Regions from separate parts of the Homo sapiens genome. Here region 1 is linked to region 2. Evidence: fine-mapped QTL for protein levels in blood plasma. Region 2 holds a variant in brackets. A gene starts in the other region. All regions are shown on their forward strands.

Region 1 (9,577 bases), not on the chromosome of region 2:
GAAAGGGATGGAAACTGATTTTAGCCTGAACTGCAAAGCCCATAGTTTTTCCACTTTACAAGGCCATGGGGCAGAAAAATTCTAGCCAGTTAAATTATATTGGTACACATAATAGAGTTAAAATGGTATTCTAAATTTAAATGTGCATAGTACACATGCAGAATACTTACAAAACAGTGAGAAGACAAATGGGTGGGTGGGTGGATGGATGGATGGATGGATGGATAGATGGGTGGATAGATGGATGGATAGATGGATGGATGAAAAGATGGATGGATAGATAGAGTCAGACACAAAGCCCCTGACTTGAGGGTAGAGAGTTAATCCACTTACATACTCAATGTTTGATGTTCATATGGTAAATCCTGCAAGAATGCTGCTACATAGAGGAAATTCTCTGCTCAAAAGCTGTCAGAATGGCTACAGCAGCTGTCTTAGCAGTTAAAATACAAATAAAAACAAAACAAAAATAAATGAAGCTATAATACATTTGTATGTTAAATAATTCAAAAAGTACAGAGCATATTCAATAAAAGTCAGGTTTTCCTCCTACTTCAAAGACTCAGTCTACTTCTTTAGAGGCAATGGTCACTACTCTTAGAAGCATAGATTTATATCTATACTACACGTGTATCTATGTGTGTTTGTACATGAATATACTTTTTTCTCTGTACAAATGGAAGCATATTATACACTAGTCTGAACCTTGATTTTGCACGACTTTTCAAGTAATGAAGATTTTTCCTGTCATATATATAAATCTGCCTCAATCTTTTGGATAGTTGCATAATAGTCCCTTGAAAAGATGAGTCATGTTTTATTTAAATGGTTTCCTGCTAATAAGACATTGGAAGCATTTCAAGTTTTTTGATACTAAAAATGATATTTTTAATGGAAATAAGTCTTTATGCATACATGCAAATAGTTTTATAGGATAAATTACTAGAAGTAGAATTGCTGAACAAGTGTATGTGCATTTTTCATTTTGATAGCTATTGCCAACTATCCCTCCAAATAGATTTCACTAGATTACACATTTCCACATACCCTTACACACTTTACAAACTATCAAACTTTTAGCTTTGCAAACTACAGGATAAAAATTATATCTATTATTTTTATTTGCATTTATTCAATTATCAGTGCAGCTGAGTATTTTTCATATGTTTATAAGTAATTTGTGTATCTTTTTCTCTGAGCTGTCTGTTCATATCCTTTGCCCAGTTTTGAATTGAATTATTGGCCTTTTTCTTATTGACTTTTGCATTTACACAGTGACATTAGCTCTTGGTTTGTTACATGTTCATGTAAATGTTTTTTCTGGGTTATGATTTCTCTTTAAAAGTTGTCTATAATATTCCTATAGACAACTCAAAATTCCTATAGACAACGAATCAAAATATTTGATTTTTACAGTCAAATTTATCCTTTTTTTCTTTATAATGTCTGGGCATCAGATGATCTTAATTATTCATGAGACTACAATGCCCAGGTGTTGTATCATATTCAGATAAGTTGCTAAACTGTCTCAAGATGCAGAAAAGTTTGCAAAAGTATTCATACAATCTTTATTCTGGAGCACCAATAAGTAATAAATGACACCTTTCTGGATTTTTTTTCTTGAAGCCCGTTGTCAAGATTTTTGAAGTCTCTCAAAAACAGGATAGATGGCTCATGGATGTTCCCTACAGACACTGTGTCATGAATATTTAGGACTCCCCTCCACCGCTATTGAGAAGTTGCCACTTAATGTTTCAAAGAGAGCAAAGAAATAGTTTTGGAAGAAACTGTATGTGTGTCTTAATCTAAAATTAATAACTATATTTCACTATCACTCACTGTAGAATGATATCTAATATTGTTGACATTCTACCACTTTACAAAATTCTTACCTGTTCACTGTATAATTGATCTGCGTGACAAAACTAGCACAACAAAAGATTACCATCTCCATTTTGCTGATATGAAAATTAGGAAAGGCAGTGGCTTGCCCCAGCTTACATAGGTACCAAGTAGCAGAAAGAGGCTAGAAATTAGGTCTTTTGATCGTAGGCCCAAAGTTCCTTTAGTGCTATAGCCTTTCTGGCTCCGCTCACTTACTATTTCTCCCCCTGCTGCTCAGATATGTCAGCAAAGAAGAAAGAGCTCCACAGAACCAAGCTCCTCAGCATGTAACACTGGGGGTTGGTGTTCAACAAGGAACACAGAGCTCTGCTTCTTACCCTGACAGGCCACCTTTCAGGATTGAAGCTCAGGATTGGAATCCAGATTGATGCCATGTGGGCACCAGCTGATTTATGCTCAAGTTGAATGACATTTATGGACAAGAGCCACAGGAAAACTGACAGCAGAGACCTTGCTATTTTATGAAGGAAAATCACGTTTACAGTGCTGACCTACACATGCAAATTTACGGTCTCAACTGATCACAAGCCTCTTTGGGATCTCACTTCATCTGAGGATGAGCTGCCACCCTAAATTATGGCACCAAAGATATAGTTCCAAATCTTCTGTTCAGGTCCTATGACTCTGACCTTGTCTACTTGTCAGGGAGAATAACAATGAAGACAGGCATATCGAGCTATCTACTCAAATCAGCCAGGGTTTCTCTTCCAGCACTACTGATACTTTGAATCACAAAATTATTTGTCTGGGGGGGCGGATGGGCGGGTGAGGGGCTATCCTGTGTACCGTAGAATGTTCAGCAGCATTTAGCAACATTCTTCTACCCACTAGATGCCAGTGGCAACCCCCTTCCTCCAATTATGACAACTCAAAATGTCTCCACACATTGCCAAGTGTCCCCTGGGGAGCAAGGCCATCTCCAACTGAGAACCACAGAAATAGATCTTTAATATATTCTGTCAAATTTTTGAAAAGACCCTTGTCTCTCAGTGATGAAAATGCCTGATTGACTCATAGCTCAAACCGAATGGGAAAGGAATAACTAACAATAAAAGCTACCTGAATTCCCAGCACTTTGGGAGGCCAAGGCAGGCAGATCACGAGGTCAGGAGATAAAGACCAACCTGGGTAACACGGTGAAACCCTGTCTCTACTAAAAATACAAGAAAATTAGCCAGGTGTGGTGGCAGCCGCCTGTAGTCCCAGCTGCTCGGGAGGCTGAGGCAGGAGAATGGCATGAACCTGGGAGGCAAAGCTTGCAGTGAGCCAAGATTGAGCCACTGCACTCCAGCCTGGGCGACAGAGTGAGACTCCGTCTCGAAAACAAAACAAAACAAAACAAAAAACTACCTGAATGTACCAAATAGCAATTGAAGTTTGCAAACAATGACCTTGAGTCATCTGCTTACAGAAGGTGTCTATCTGTCTTTTGGACAAAGGACTTCTGATGAAGAGGATGGAGTGGACCATATTCTTTAATCCATGACGTTATTTGTCCCCATCAAATACAAATATCTAAATGTATTTATATATTTTCATTATCACTAGTCCTCATTCTCATTCCCCTCACTCCCCAGTGGGATCTATCCTACTAATATATATCCTTTTGTCTGTGTCTTTGTATAATGTGTACTATTTTGAATATATCATTCTCATTTAAGTCAATAGAGTTCCGCAATCACTTACTCACAATTCTTAAACTTACACAGCTCTGGACACCAGAAGTTTTCTCTTAAATTCTTAACAGCGAAATCTGACTGAAGCGACAAGGGGTTACTTGGGGTTCTTTAGCCACTCAATGTAACTATTCCTATGTTTTGCTGCGGAACTATTATGCTTGATTATGCGATGCCACCTCTTCCTTTTCTAAATTCCAAGCATTTTGAATTCCAAAAACAAATCTGAGCCCCCCCATTTTTTTCTTTTTCTTTCTTTCCTTTTTCTTTTCTTTTAAGTGAGACAGGGTCTCACTCTGTTGCCCAGGTTAGAGTACAGTGACACAATCATGGCTCACTATAGCCTTGACCTTCCGGGCTCAGGTGATCCTCCCACCTCAGCCTACTTGGTAGGTGGGAGTACAGGCATGTGCCACCATGCCTGACTAATTTTTGTATTTTTTGTGGAGATGGGGAATCCCTATGTTGCCCAGGCTGGTCTCAAACTCCTGGGTTCAAGCAATCCACTTTCCTTGGCTTCCCAAAGTGCTTGGATTACAGGCATGAGCCACTGTGCCCAGCCCCAAAGGGTTTTAATTGTCTACTTATACATTATAGAGAGAGATCTTACTCTGTTTTCCTGTTTTTACTCAGTATTATATTTTTAATACATATCCATGTTACTGCATGTACATCTAGTCTATTACTTCTAACTGCCGTAGAATACTCCATGAAGTGGATCCCTACATTCCACTCACCCACTCCCCCAGTAATGAGCAGCTACATTGCCTCCAGTTCCCCATCACTACAAACAATGACTTAATGAACATCCTCATACATGTTCCTTTGTGGACCTGTATGAGAATCTCCATAGGATATACACCCAGGGTTAACAGCTGGGTCATGGGTGTGAATATACTTAATCTGGTCAAGGAATGCCAGAATACCCTTCAAAACAGCCATGTCAGCCTACTGGCATGGTGTGATATAATAGATCCTGTAGTCCCCCATTTTCCCAACACTTACCAGTATCCAGTGTTCTCAACTTGTCAGTCTAAGAGGTGTAAAGAGATATCTCATTCTTTTTTTCATTTGCATTTTCTGATATAACTGAGCCTCCAGGTATGCTCATTAGTCTTTGGGGTTTCTTCTCGTTAAATTGCTTATTCATGAGCTTTACGCATTTTTTACTAGTGTTTCTGTCTTTTTCTTGCTGACTTACAAGAGTTCCTTGTTTTTAGACATTGAAAATATTGGTTTTAGACACTGAAAAATATCTTCTCTCAATCTGTCAGCTGTCTGTTCATTTGGTTCATGCATAGAGGAAATGTGTAAAACAGAAATCTTCATTTTTATGTAATCCAATTGATAGGTATTTTGCCTTATGGTTTGGAGCTTTAGAAGTTTTAAAAAAGTCCTTCCCACTTATAAGTGACAAAGACAGTCCTCTATATTTTCTTCTACTACTGTAACAATTTTACTTTTCACATTTGGTCTTTAATTCACTTCCAAATGGATTCACCTCTGTTGTTTTAGATTGGAGTCCAGTTTTATTTTTCATCATACGCTGAACATTTTCTCTTTTTAAAAAAATTTTTTGTAGGGAGTTTTTGCTCAGACTGGCCTTGAACTACTGACCTCAAGCAATTCTCCTGCCTTGACCTCCCAAAGTGCTGGGATTACAGGTGTGAGCCATTATGCCCAGCCCATTGAGTATTTTCTACTAAATATTGCATGTTTTCCTCATTGATCAGGGAATCATCTGTATTATCTTATACTTAATACCCAAATATACAAATCTATCTATAATTTCTCTACTCTGTTTCAATGGTCCATATGCCTGATCTGTTGCAAAGATCACTACTTTAATTTCTATGGCTTTAAATTATGTCCATATGTGATAGGGTTAGTCCCCCTTTTCATTATTCCCTTAGCATTTTTACTTAAGGCCAGGAACAGCAGCTCACGCCTGTAATCCCAGCACTTTGGGAGGCCAAGGTGGGTGGATCACTTGAGCCCAGGAGTTTGAGACCAGCCTAGGCAACAAAACTAGACTCCGTCTCTACAAAATACAAAAATAAAAATTAGCTGGACATGATGGTGTTGCCTGTGGTCCAAGCTACTCAGGAGGCTGAAGTGGGAGGATCACTTTAGCCCAGGAGGTCAAGGCTGCAGTGAGCTGTGACTGTGCCACCACTACACTCCAGCCTGGGTGATACAGTAAAACCATGTCTCAAAAAAAATTTTTTTAACTTAGTCATAGATTTTATTACATCTGTATTTTAGAGTAGGCTTATTATTAAGTTTCTGAGAAAATTTATTTGTAGCTTGTATTGGAATTACATTGAGCATGTGAATTAACGAAAAGAGGCTTAAGCTTTCTATATAGAGAAACCTTCCACCCAAGGGTATAGAATTATTTAATTAAATCACACTATATTCTTGACTGAACTTTAAAATTTTTCTCCAAACACTATTCTGTAGTTATCCAAGCTCATGTAATAATCATAATAACTCTATACTGTAGGTACTTTTATTATCATCATTTAACAGATGAGGAAACTGAGCCCAGAGAGATAAATAACTCACCTAAGAACACACAGCAAGTAAGTAGCAGAACCTGGATTAACATAGTTTAGTCCATACTCTTAGCCATTATACTGCCTCTGTATCTACAGTCAGTTACTTTATAGTTTGGCTGCTTCTATGCATGTCATCTTGTTTTTATTACATTTTCTGATGGATTGTTGCAGATACAAAGAAAATCGGCTGATTTTTTTTAAGTTGATATGTGTATTGCATGATGTTGTTAAATTCTCTTCTTAGTTCTAATAGTCTATTAATTTTTTTTCTTTTTGTATATCAACTGTAAAAAGTGACAGTTTTACCTTTTCTTTTCCAATGTTTAAAGCTCTCATTTCTTTTTCTTTCCTTATAGCATTGGCCGAGACCTCCACGACAATGCTACACACTGTGAAGTAGTGATTGTGAGCTAAGACTGTCACTTATAGAAAAATCATGTATTCCTAGAAGAAGGTTTTCATTTCATCTTAGCTAGAGGACATGGAGCACTTCAGGAAACTATTTCACAAAAATGTAAATTAGAAACTGTGTCTGGTAGCCAATAATCCATTTTTAACAGTGGCCCTGTGCTCATCTAAGCAACAGAAATTACTTTTGTATAGGAGATGGCCCTTCCAGGGGAGAAACAGCTCAGTTGTGATACACTTGTCTTCATCCTGACTTTAAGTACATTTAACTCCACACTAAACCCTTGTGGCCACAACACAGCTCTGCACCTGTCATTTGCTCTAGACAAACTGCTAAACGCAATTGTTTCTGACAATGGATTACTCTGTATCCCGTGGGGGAATTCTCAGACAGCAGCATTAGAAGGGGCCTTAGAGATCAACCATTTCTCTTATTTTACACACACCTAAAACTCCCTACAGCCGTGCTTCATCAGCTTCGAGCAGATGAGCCACCCAGAAGGCAGCTCCAGTTATTAGGTCCTAGGGCCTGGGTGTAGTCAGGCCCTTTGGAAGCTCCAAGTCAGAGATCAAACACATCCTCCCCACTACCCACGCCTAGGGTGACTAATGCCTGTGGGAAAAACAACTGAACTAAAAAGTCCCACAGGAACCTCAAACCCAGCACATCCAAAATGGAACTTCTCACCATCTCCTCCAAACTCAGTCCTCTTATACAGTAATCCCTGTAAAGCTAGAACAATCTCCATTCCCCATTCTCAGGGCCTTCCTCTCCCGCTCACCTGAGGAGCTACCAAGCCTTGGCCCACAAGCCCTCTGAGAGTCCCTCCTGCCCACCCTGTGTTCTCCATACTGAATAAGGACTTGGCCACACCTTGTCAACTCTTCCCTCTGCTCTACTCCTGACCCCTGGATCCATCCTTCATGCTGTGGCTGAAGGGATCCCCCCATCATGCAAATTCTGCCACATCTCCCGCCTAAAACCCAGGAAGACTCCCCACTACTCTCAGCACAGAAAGTACACTCCTTAGTATGGCATCCCCTGCCCTCATGGCATGGCCCCATCCAGCCCTCCAGCCTCACACCCTGCAAGGACACCTAGACCCCCACCTCCCTCAACCCTTCATGACTGCGCTTCTGATCCCTGTTTCCCCTGGCTAGACCCTGCGTGCCCTCCCGCTGGAAGCGGTCTAATGCCTGCTTGTTTTTAACACTCAGGTTGGGGCCCCTGCCTGCTCCCGGGAGCCTTTGCTGACTCCTGGACCCCGTTGCTCCGGCTGAGCGTGGGCTCTTTCTCTAGGTCTTTCCTCCCAGGACTCTGTGTATTCATCCTATCGTTAAACTGGATTCTCTACAAGAGTAATAATTGCAGAGTCAGCCAGCTCTCATCCCTTTTCAGGTTTCAGAAAAGACCTGTGAACAAAACGCCTTGAGTCTGATTTAGTGTGGCAATGCCCCAAGGGTCCTGTTCTCCCTGGGTGTCCTGCACCTGGTGCAACGTCGGCCTGGCATCTAGTGAGCCATCTAAAGGAACGATGATGAGTGAATGATTTGCCTACCCCTTCCAGTACTAGGCTGGAGGTCGTGGTTAGGGCCCATCCCTACGCAGGACATGCAAAGTGGGAGGCACTCCTCTCTCTACGTCGGCAGGGGGCGCTGCACAGCTGCGGGGCGGGGTAGCTTAGACACGGGGCGTCCGGCTAAGGCCGGGGACCCAGGGTGGTGGGCGGGGTGTCCCGCCCGCCTGTGGACCCCGCGCAGTAACTGCGAACATTTCGCTTTCATTTTGGGCCGAGCTGGAGGCGGCGGGGCCGTCCCGGAACGGCTGCGGCCGGGCACCCCGGGAGTTAATCCGAAAGCGCCGCAAGCCCCGCGGGCCGGCCGCACCGCACGTGTCACCGAGAAGCTGATGTAGAGAGAGACACAGAAGGAGACAGAAAGCAAGAGACCAGAGTCCCGGGAAAGTCCTGCCGCGCCTCGGGACAATTATAAAAATGTGGCCCCCTGGGTCAGCCTCCCAGCCACCGCCCTCACCTGCCGCGGCCACAGGTCTGCATCCAGCGGCTCGCCCTGTGTCCCTGCAGTGCCGGCTCAGCATGTGTCCAGCGCGCAGTGAGTACTCAGCCCGCCAGGTCTTTGGCTCGCTCGGGTGCGGAGGGGCGGCTGCTTGGGAAGAGTGGGTAGAAACTCAAGTCTGCCTAAGGAGAGACTGGAACAGCAGCAGCCGTCTCCTGCAAAGAGGAATAAGAATAGGGGTCTCACCGTGTGCTAAATAGGGCATGTCTCTTTTCATCTCGAAACAGCCTGATGAGCTATCATTATGCCCACTTCGTAGAGGAGAAACTGAGGCCCAGCGTGGGAGATTTCCTGCTTTCCTGCCTAGGGTCCCTCAGCTACAAACAGAAGGCAGATCCTAGCCAGTTCTAAAGTCAGGCTTGGCCGGGTGCAATGGCTCACGCCTGTAATCCCAGCACTTTGGGAGGCCAAGGCGGACAGATCTCCTGAGGTCAGGAGTTCAAGACCAGCCTGACCAACATGGTGAAACCCCGTCTCTACTAACAAATACACAAATTAGCCGAGTGTGGTGGTGGGTGCCTGTAATCCCATCTACTCGGGAGTCTAAGGCAGGGAAAATTGCTTGAACTCGGAGGTGGAGGTTGCAGTGAGCCAAAATCGTGCCACTGCACTCCAGTCTGGGCCACAGAGTGAGACTCCGTCTTAAAAAAACAAAAAAAGTCAGGCTTTCTCACTCCACTGTTTTTAAAACACTGGGTCCCAAGTCTGACTCAGCCACTTCACCACCTGGTCTGGGTTTCCCTGATCAAAAACATGTAGGCTTTCTCTGGGTGAGTGTTGGGTTCAACACCCTTGTCCAAGCTCATCTCTAGACCCTCACAGGGAGCTGGCTTCTAGCCCTAGAATAGAGTGGCGCTTTGTAATAACTCGAGTCATCTCTCAGGTGTTGAAGGAAAAGTGTTGGAAATGGGTTGAGGGAGGTGGGTGCCAAGCATGAATGGATGGGTGAAG
Region 2 (9,628 bases):
GGGATTCTTGATCGCAAACACCGCCCTTGACTGTCTCTGCCTGTGGCTAGTGATGCAATTGTCCCACGTGTCTATCTGATGGGCTGTTTGCCAGAAAAGCCTTCTGAAATGCTTTGGGCTGCACAGGGCCCCAGTTAAAATGTGTGTATGATTTAAACTGACACTTGTTAACCTTGCGGTTATTTATTGAGTGACAATTACATATCAGGCACCCAGCTAAATTCTGTGAATGTAGTAAGCAGATCAGACCTGGACTCTGTCCTCATAGAGCTAAATAGATATGTGCAGAGGACAAAATGCTATGAAGGAAATGAATGGGTGGTGAGACAGAGAATCACAGGGGAGGGCTCTCTGATGAGGTGGCATTTAAGTTGGGACCTACAGGTGAACCAGGATGAGAATCAGTAAGAAGCCCCTACAATGGGAGAGGGCTTGGCGGGTTGGAGGAATGGAAAGGAGGTTGGTGTGACTTAAGCGCAGAGGAAAGGGAGAGATGCCCAGGGAGTCTGAGGCAGGTGCTGGCCGAGGCACATGGCTGCACAGGCCCCATGTAGTAGGCACATTTAGCACTGAAAATATGTAAAAGTCTCTGAGATGAAACAACCACGATAACCAAAACCAAGACCCAGGTATGCTTTGTCATAGGATCAGGTACCAATGAAGTTCTTGGGAGCTGTGAAACATGGCTGACTTGACCAGACCAGAAGTTTCCAAATCTTCCTTGGTCGCAGAACGCTTAGTGCTTCAGTAATTTTTTCATGGCATCTGTAGGCCAAAAGAAATACCAAATAGATTCATTGATTAACTAGTTAGGGTCAAATCGCTTAAAAGTCTTTATGTGCTAAAAACTTTGTATTGGCCATTTGAAAAAAAATGATACATTGAAACAAAAAAAATATTTTTTTGTATTCTGAAATCATCACAATTACTTACTCATGGGATGTGTGGCCTGCTGGGCACTGTGCAACTCCTTAAACTTTGGAATCAGAGTGGACACTGCCACCTTCATTTCCTGTTCCACACTGATTTCCTTGTGGCACTTGCTTTTTGTCACAGTAACTGCCAAAAACATGGCTTCCCCAAAAGATGCCATCACTGAAAGGAATATGACGTAATCTAATGTTGAAACCATGAACAACCCTGAGTTTGTGCAGTGTTCAACAGATATGGAGGATCCTGTCTTTCCCTTGGAAAATTTAAAATACCTCCCAACAGTCCTGTGAATTTACTATGCTACCCCAGGGTGACCTGGTAGAGAGTTTGGAACCACAGCTAGCCATAGTACTTTCAAACTACTAAAGTTAGATATCTCTTTGCCACCAAATCCCTCCTCAGGGCCATATGTGACCCTGCATTTTGTGCAGGGATTCCAGGAAGCAAAGTTGTCACTCTTTCTGGAAACTGTATCCTATTTGCCCAACCATCAATAGGGGTACCTCTGGAGTGCGAACCCAGCCTGGCTTATTTGAATAGAGGAAAGGAGGAAAGGGGTGAGTAACATGTACAGATGGTCAGCAGTAGTATGAAAGCATGTGAGGTTGAACCAAGAGGAAATGAGTAGGTGATACACAACCATAATTTTGGGGCCCTTGATGAAGAAATGAGTGCTGAAATTCTGAAGGGTTTGTTATTGTGCAGACCTGCAGTTAAGCTGGCTAAGCTTTAGGTGTTGCCTCTGCAGTCAGGAACATCCTGCCAGAAGGCAATTAAAGAGTGGAAGAGCAGAAATGCAGAGAAGGAATTCAACACCTGCTCCACCAGCACGTTCCTTGGTCGCTCTCGTCTGTTTCCCTAGCTGGATCACATTCTTGGTGAATGAGAGAAAGTATGAGGATTAATGAGCAGACCTGTCTTTGGGATACCCTAGAACCATGATGCAATGCAAATATCACAGTATCTCAAAGGACAGTAGCCAGTAGAGCCAGTTGACTTCAAGTCAGTTTAACTTTCTCTTTCTGCATAAAGTCATGTATGCAAATCATCTAGGATGGCTGAGATGCTGATGAAATGAGTTCCCATGGCAACTGGAAGATTATCCTTACATCATCTTTGTGATGAGCAAAGTTCAGTGAAGACCAGAGGGAAGTAAAATTCTTGCTTGTCACTGAACTTGGACTGTTTACTCAACCTCTATTGCTTGGTTTTCTCATCTATAAGATGAGAATAATACTGAGATGGGATTGTTCCCTTGACCTCCTCATGGGACTTGCAACATTGGTGACTTGTTTACTTGGCCACTGCACTCAAACCCCTTGCATGAGGGGGAGCACACAGGAGAGCAGGAGCAGGAGCTGGGGTGATTGCCTTTGGAAGCCATTAGGAACAAACTGTGTACCAGCCTGTGGCAGTGTCTAGGGGTTGTCCATGACCTCTGGAGCCCAAGGGGGCATGTGTTACAAACAATACTCTTTTAGCATTTGCTGTCCACAGACAGCTAAGTGTTTACCCGCTCAGTGGAGGGTTGGGGTGACAGCCTTTCACACCCTGCCCTCTTGATACCCAGGTTCTTGTCCTATGTCCAGGAAGAATCAGGTCACAGGGACTTGAAGGATGGTGAATGTGGAGACTTTATTGAGTGGTGGAGGTGGCTCTCAGTGGGATGGGGAGCTAGAAAGGGGATGGAGTGGGAAGATACTCTTCCTCTGGAGTTCAGCCATTCCTGGCCAAATTCCTCTCCAACCATAGTCTCCGATGTCCAGCTGCCTCTTCTACTCTTGATGTTCAGACACTTCTTCCCTTCTCTCCTTCTCTGCTGCACCGCTCTGCTCCTCTGCCAGTGGAACTTGGAGTTTTTGTGGGTACAGGGTGGGGAGGGAAGTGTGGCATGCCAGGGTGGTTTTAGAAAAGGCAACATTCGAGCGGGAAAACAGGGATGTGAAGTTCTCATCTAGGGCTGCGGGTCCAGGCTTGAGGGTGGAGTCCTTGCCATGGACCCTGCCCTCTTCTACCCAGTATTTCCCTTCCTCCTGTCCTTATCAGTACAAACCCAGACCTTTAAGTTGTTACAAGAAGTAATGATACTCACTAAGCCAAAACCATAGTGTCAGGTACTATGCTGATGCTTTATATACACTAGCTTATTTTATACCTAAAACAATCTTACAAGGAAGACATATTATAATCCCCATTGATATCTGAGAAAAATGAGGCACAGAGAGAACAAGTAAGTTGATATCAAAAATGGCAGGGCAGGGATAATAAGATACATCTAGTATAAGATTTGGTTGAGATTATGAGTATGAGATCTTAGCCCATTGCCTGCCCACAGCAGTACTCAGCAAATGCTAGGCTATTATTATTACTGTTATTTTTTGTTAATTCCATTACTGTTATTATTTGACCAGGGGAATCATCTTAGGCTTTATGGAGGAGTTGACATTTTCAATCAGCTTTGAGGGTGGGTAGGCTTTGGACAGACAGGGATGGGGCAGAAGAACATTCTGGACTATGGGCACAACAAGAGCTAAGGCTAGGAGGTGGGACTGTGTAACTTTGAGATGGAGAATAGGGAGGAGACCTCAAAGCAGAACCTTAGGCTCTAAGGGAAACAAGACAGAAGGATTCTGCTGACAAGACAGTAAAGTAGCCTGCTCATCTGGTGGTAGGCACTGTGTCAGCGTTCTAGGTTGTAAATGTAGGAAGTAAGCAGATCAGAGGTTTGCTCAACAACCTGCCTAGTGAGCCAAACTGCTTGCTCTTGAGGCCATGTAGTCCTTCTGGGGCAGCTCTTCAAACCCTAGTCCACAGAGGCAGGTACCCAGTTCTTTCAGTGATGCCCCAAGCCAGATAAGAAAATGATGTTATGGAGATCTGGAATCCTCACCCAAAAGTCCAGCTTTCATTCTAAATGCATCCGTCCATCAGGACAGTCTTGTGTGTGTTCAGAGGTGAGGGATGAAAGAGAAACTTCACAGCAGAAGACCCTCTCAAAGTCATGTGCGGATCTGCACTGAGTCTCCTGTTTCTCCCTCTTCCCTAGCTATACCTCTTTTTAAGATCCAAAAGGGCAGGGCTGACTTAAGCCTTCTCTAGGGCCAGATATTCCTAGACGAAAACAAGGGGCTTCTTGAGAGGAAATGAAAGGAGACGGAGATGCGGTTTTGCCTTAAGGTTTTTAATGTGAGCCACTGAGAAGATTCATTTTGAAATAGAA[G/A]GATGTGTCTGACAGTGTGATGTAAATGCAGGCATTTTGGAGTCCCTGCTGGAGAACACACAGAGGTGAGTAGGGGTTCTCCAGTGACCTTGTGGGAGTCTTTGGCTGGGAAGCTAGCTGCTGGAGCTGAAAGGGCACAGGAATAGAAACCACACCACCTGGGGTCTTCTGATCCAGTGTTTTCCAAAGGGCAAGTGCCATGTGAGCTGGTTTTAGACTGCAAAGGAGCAACTGATTCAACAGTAACAAATTACAAATGAAAACTTTTCCCATTTCAAAGTTACTTTTCAGTTCTTCTGATGCTAAGGAGAAAGTGTCGGTTTTAGGCTATTGTCTCTCTTTTTTTTTTTTTTTGAGTCAGAGTCTTGCTCTGTCGCCCAGGCTGGAGTGCAGTGGTGCGATCTCGGCTCACTGCAAGCTCCGGCTCCTGAGTTCACACCATTCTCCTGCCTCAGCCTCCCAAGTAGCTGGGACTACAGGTGCCCGCCACCACGCCCAGCTAATTTTTTGTATTTTTAGTAGCGATGGGGTTTCACCGTGTTAGCCAGGATGGTCTCAATCTCCTGACCTTGTGATCCTCCCGCCTCGGCCTCCCAAAGTGCTGGGATTACAGGCATGAGGCACCGCGCCAGGCCTATTGTCTCTTTAATACCTCTCTATCACTTGTTGATCTCTCTTCTTAAGGAGGGCAAGCACTCTTCAGCCTTAGAGGCATTAGCAGGCAACAGCATCTATTCTAGTGGATCTCATCCTTGGCTGCATGATGCTATTTCCTGGGGAGAGCTTTAACAAATTACTTATGCCTAATTGCTTCCTCCCCAGAGGAATTCCAGTTTAATAGCTCTAAGGTCTGGCTTGGGCATTAGGATTTTTAGAAGCTCTCCAGACAACGGTTTCTAATTAGAATTGTTTTGTATTATATTTATTAACCTTCTATTAATGGCACGTGATACTAGTTTTCTACTGAAGGCATTGAAGTAAAATTTCCTTTCAACATCAGTTGACTTACATAAAAACAGTAAGTGCCTGTTAAAGGAAAATAAAAACTAAAGGCAGGAGGATTACTTGAGGCCAGGAGTTTGAGACCAGTCTGGGCAACGTAGTGAGACCCCGTCTCTTAAAAATAAAAGCCAGGCATAGCGGTACGTACCTGTAGTCCCAGCTGCTGAGGAGGCCGAGGTGGGAGGAGTGGGACGATCACTTGAGACAGGGTGTTTGAGGCTGCAGTGAGCTATGATCATACTACTGCACTGGTGTGACAGAGCAGAAAAAAAGAAGAAGAAAAAGAAAGATAACTAAATAATGCAGGTGGTATTTGCATATGGCAAAAACAAAATATGCATTCAGTGAACTTTGCCAAACTCTCTTCTGGTCCTGGCTTAGCTCTCCCATTCCTGTCTTCTTTAGGCCCAGTTTCCTCAACAATGAAATGGGACTAATTATCCCAGGTCACACTTCTCTCTGGGCTTACCCTGGGAATCAGATGATTGAGCTTTGGTAAGTATTATTTGATAAACAAGTATGAGGAAGGAAATAAAAGGGAGATCAGTGCTGCAGAGATGGCTAATTGGCAGATTTACACAGAACTGGATTTTTTGCGTATGTTAAACCAGGCTATTTGGAACTTCTGAGTTCCAAGTACCATCTTCTCTCCCTCTGCATCAGAATGATCCACTGGTCTCCATTAAAGGTATCATGATTGCCAATAATGATTTAGTTCTCCAGTGGCAATAAACTAAAGAACACTGGAAGTCCCACCAAGACTCCCAAGGATAGCGTGTTAGCATACAAGCTGAATAGCCTGTGTTGCAGTCCCTGCTAGTCAGGGTCTTCTGGATAATGCATTGCCTGTGTGAGGACTGGCCTGGTCCTCTGCAGGCTGAATTCTGCATTTAGCAGCTCAGTGTCCCTTCCACGGGCCCCAGTTTCTTCATCAGGAAGGTGAGGGGCTTGGACTAGTGTAGGATCAGGTATAAATGCAAATACCTCCAATACCAAGGAAGTAACTCAGGTGTGAGGCTCTGCTAAGGGAACAGGGAGTGGTCAGGCTTACAGCAAAGTAGAGAGCGCAGTCCCACAATAAAGATACTCAGATTCAAGTTTTGAAAACCAGGGGGTTGTTAAACAACAGTTTGGCAAGGTGACAGTTAGTGATTACTGGATGTGATGGTTTCTAAGATTCATTTCTAAAAATAATTTTATAATAGTAAAATAAATCCAAGGTGTCTACTGGGGTTTTTTTATATCACTGCTGTACTCAATGGTACCCAGAGGCTTCTCTGATAATAAGAACTAACACTTAGAATAAAAGCTAACATCCAAATGCTAAGTTCTTTAAAACCATTTAATCCTCACCATAACTGTGTGAAGCCAGTACTATTATTACAGCCTTATAACATATAAGGAAGTTAGGGTTCAGAGTGTTTTTTTACACACATTTTACAAATGTGTGTAAAATCTCTAGAGCAGCGTTATCCAATAGAAATATAAAATGAGCCATATATGTAATTTTGAATTTTTTTAGTAGCCATATTAAAAAATAAAAAGAAACATGACATTAATTTTAATTATATATTTTATGTAAACCAATATATATAAAATATTATCATCTTAATATGTAATCAGTGTAAAAATTAATGAGATGCCTTGTGTATTTTTTGCATTGTCTTTAAAATTTAGAGTTTCTTCTTTTTTTTAAACAAATAGCCTTATTGAGATATAATTCACATACTATACAGTTTGCCCATTTAAAGTATACAATTCAATGGCTTTTAATATATTTACATATGTGTAACAATTTTAAATTAAAATTGTGTAAAATTTAATATATTCACATGGTTACACACAAATGGTTACACATATGTTAATATACTAAATTTTACACAATTTTATATTTATTATTTATTTGATATATAAATATTATTTATTTGAGGCAGGGTCTTGCTCTGTTGGCCAGGCTGGAGTGCAGCATTGCAATCATAACTCACTGAAGCCTAGACCTCCTGGCTTCAAGCAATCCTCCTGCCTCAGCCTCTTGAGTAGATGGGACTGCAGGCATCTACCACCACACTCGGTATTAACTTTTTAATTTTTTGTAGAGACAGGGTCTCACTCTGTTGCCCAGGCTGGTCTTAAATTCCTGGGCTCAAGTGATCCTCCTGCCTCAGCCTCCCAAAATGTTGGGATTATAGGTGTGAGCCACCGCAATTTTAGAAAGTTTTCATCCCCTTGAGATGAAATCTCCTATCTTTTGGCTAGCACTCACCTACCACCCTGACCCCATCCTCAGCCATAAACTACCCCTAATCTAATTTAAATCTCTATAGACGTCCCTATTCTTTTTCATGTGACTATTCTGTTATCCCAGCACCATTTGTTGGAAAGACCATTTTCCCCCACTGAAGGGTCTTGGTACCCTTGCCAAAATCAGTTGACCATAGACATATGGGTTTATTTCTGTGCTCTCAATGTTCTGTTCCATTGATCTGTATGCCTATCCTTATGCCAGTACCATACTGTCTTGACTATTGTTGTTTTGTAGTTAAGTTTTGAAATAGAGAAGTTTGAGTCCTCATACTTTATTCTTCTTTTTAAGGATTATTATGGCTATTCCAGATCTCTTTTAATTCCATATAAGTTTCTAAATCAACTTGTTAATTTGTACAAAGAAGTCAGTTTGGATTCTGATAGGGAATGTGTTGAATTTACACATCAGTTTGGGGAGTATAACAATGTTAAGGATTGGAAAACCCGTGATTATAGGGTTTTCTCCATTTATTTAGACCTTCTTTATTTTCTCAACAATGTTTTGCAGTTCTCAGCATATAACTTTCATTTCTTTTGTTCAATTTATTCCTAAGTATTTAATACTTTTTGGTGCTATTGCAGATGAATTTTCCTATTAATTTTCATATTGGTCATTGCAATTGTATAAAAATACAATTATTTTTGTATATTGATCTTGTTTCATGCAATCTTGCTGTGATGGTTAATTTTTTGTGTCAACTTCACTGGGACATGAGGTGCCCACATATTTAGTCAAACATTATTCTATGTGCTTCTGGGAGGATGTTTTGGATTAGTTTGACATTTAAATTGATAGAAATTGATAGACTGAGTAAAGTAGATTTCCCTTCGTAATGTAGCTTAGCCTCATTTAATCAGTTAAAAGTCTGAATAGAAAAAAAGGCTGACCCTGCCCACAAATAAAAAGGAATTTCTTCTGCCTGACTACCTCTGAGCTGCAACATCTGTTTTTTCTTGCCTTTGAACTTGAATTGAAACATTAGCTCTTTCTGAGTCTTGAGTCTGCTGGCTTTCAAACTAGAACTACAACATTAGCTTTCCTGAATGCAAATCAAAACCACAATGAGATGCCATCTCACACCAGTTAGAATGGCGATCATTAAAAAGTCAGCAAACAACAGGTGCTAGAGAGGATGTGGAGAAATAGGAACACTTTTACACTGTTGGTGGGACTGTAAACTAGTTCAACCATTGTGGAAGACAGTGTGGCGATTCCTCAAGGATCTAGAACTAGAAATACTATTTGTCCCAGCCAACCCATTACTGGGTATATACCCAAAGAATTATAAATCATGCTACTATAAAGACACATGCACATGTATGTTTATTGTGGCACTATTCACAATAGCAAAGACTTGGAACCAACCCAAATGTCCATCAATGATAGACTGGATTAAGAAAATGTGGCACATATATGCCATGGAATACTATGCAGCCATAAAAAAGGATGAGTTCATGTCCTTTGTAAGGACATGGATGAAGCTGGAAACCATCATTCTGAGCAAACTATCACAAGGACAGAAAACCAAACACTGCATGTTGTCACTCATAGGTGGGAATTGAACAATGAGAACACTTGGACACAGGATGGGGAACATCACACACTGGGGCCTGTCATGGGGTGGGGGGAGAGGGGAGGGACAGCATTAGGAGATATACCTAAAGTAAATGATGAGTTAATGGGTGCAGCACACCAACGTGGCACACATATACATATGTAACAAACCTGCACATTGTCTTCATGTACCTTAGAACTTAAAGTTATTTTAAAAAAAGCCACAGAACTCTTTTGTAAGTAAATAAAAAATTAGCTTTCCTGGTTCTCAGACATTTGGACTAGGACTAGAACTAAGCCATTAGCTCCCCTGGGCCCCCAGCTTGTAGGCTTCAGATTTTAGGACTAGTCAGCTTCCATAATCACATGAGCGAATTTCTTATAATAAATCTCTGTGTGTGTGTGTGTATATGTGTGCAATATATATACATTCTCTTGGTTCTGTTTCTCTGGAAACCCTGATAAATTATACTTGTTGACTCAAATAATTTCTCGCTGGTCTTAGAATTTTTTATATTCAATATTATGTCATGTTTGAATAGAGATAATTTTACTTCTCTTTTCCCCAATCTGAATACCTTTAAATTCCTTTTTTTTTGTTGTCTAATTGCACT

Alleles and levels. Positions count from the first base shown, and alleles are read on the strand shown. Strength reflects both the effect of a copy and how common the allele is.
In carriers of allele A in region 2, the plasma level of the protein whose gene starts at base 8,323 in region 1 tends to be higher than with G alone (strong association).

What was found. PIP is the chance, under the fine-mapping model, that this variant and not a neighbour inherited with it causes the effect. The UK Biobank Pharma Proteomics Project read protein levels with antibody pairs (Olink). The fine-mapping took linkage between variants from a reference panel, not from the people measured, so its PIPs are less certain.
Region 1: IL12A starts here. The variant in region 2 is fine-mapped to the plasma level of the IL12A protein (UK Biobank, PIP above 0.99).

Annotation. Positions count from the first base shown.
Region 1 is chr3:159,980,513-159,990,089 of GRCh38, forward strand. IL12A (interleukin 12A) reads left to right here and starts at 8,323. Exons shown (of 7, transcript NM_001397992.1): 1 at 8,323-8,662. The coding sequence starts at 8,647. It overlaps IL12A-AS1 (IL12A antisense RNA 1), which reads right to left. Exons shown (of 10, transcript NR_108088.1): 9 at 8,585-8,781. RefSeq lists enhancers at 5,982-7,181, 8,033-8,533, 8,534-9,034, 8,534-8,583 and silencers at 8,094-8,293, 8,364-8,413.
Region 2 is chr5:159,341,956-159,351,583 of GRCh38, forward strand. It overlaps IL12B-AS1 (IL12B antisense RNA 1), which reads left to right. Exons shown (of 5, transcript NR_037889.1): 3 at 5,561-5,650. Among named protein-coding and RNA genes, the nearest start is that of IL12B-AS1, 15 kb to the left of the region's middle. The variant G/A (reference allele first, on the strand shown) is at 4,154.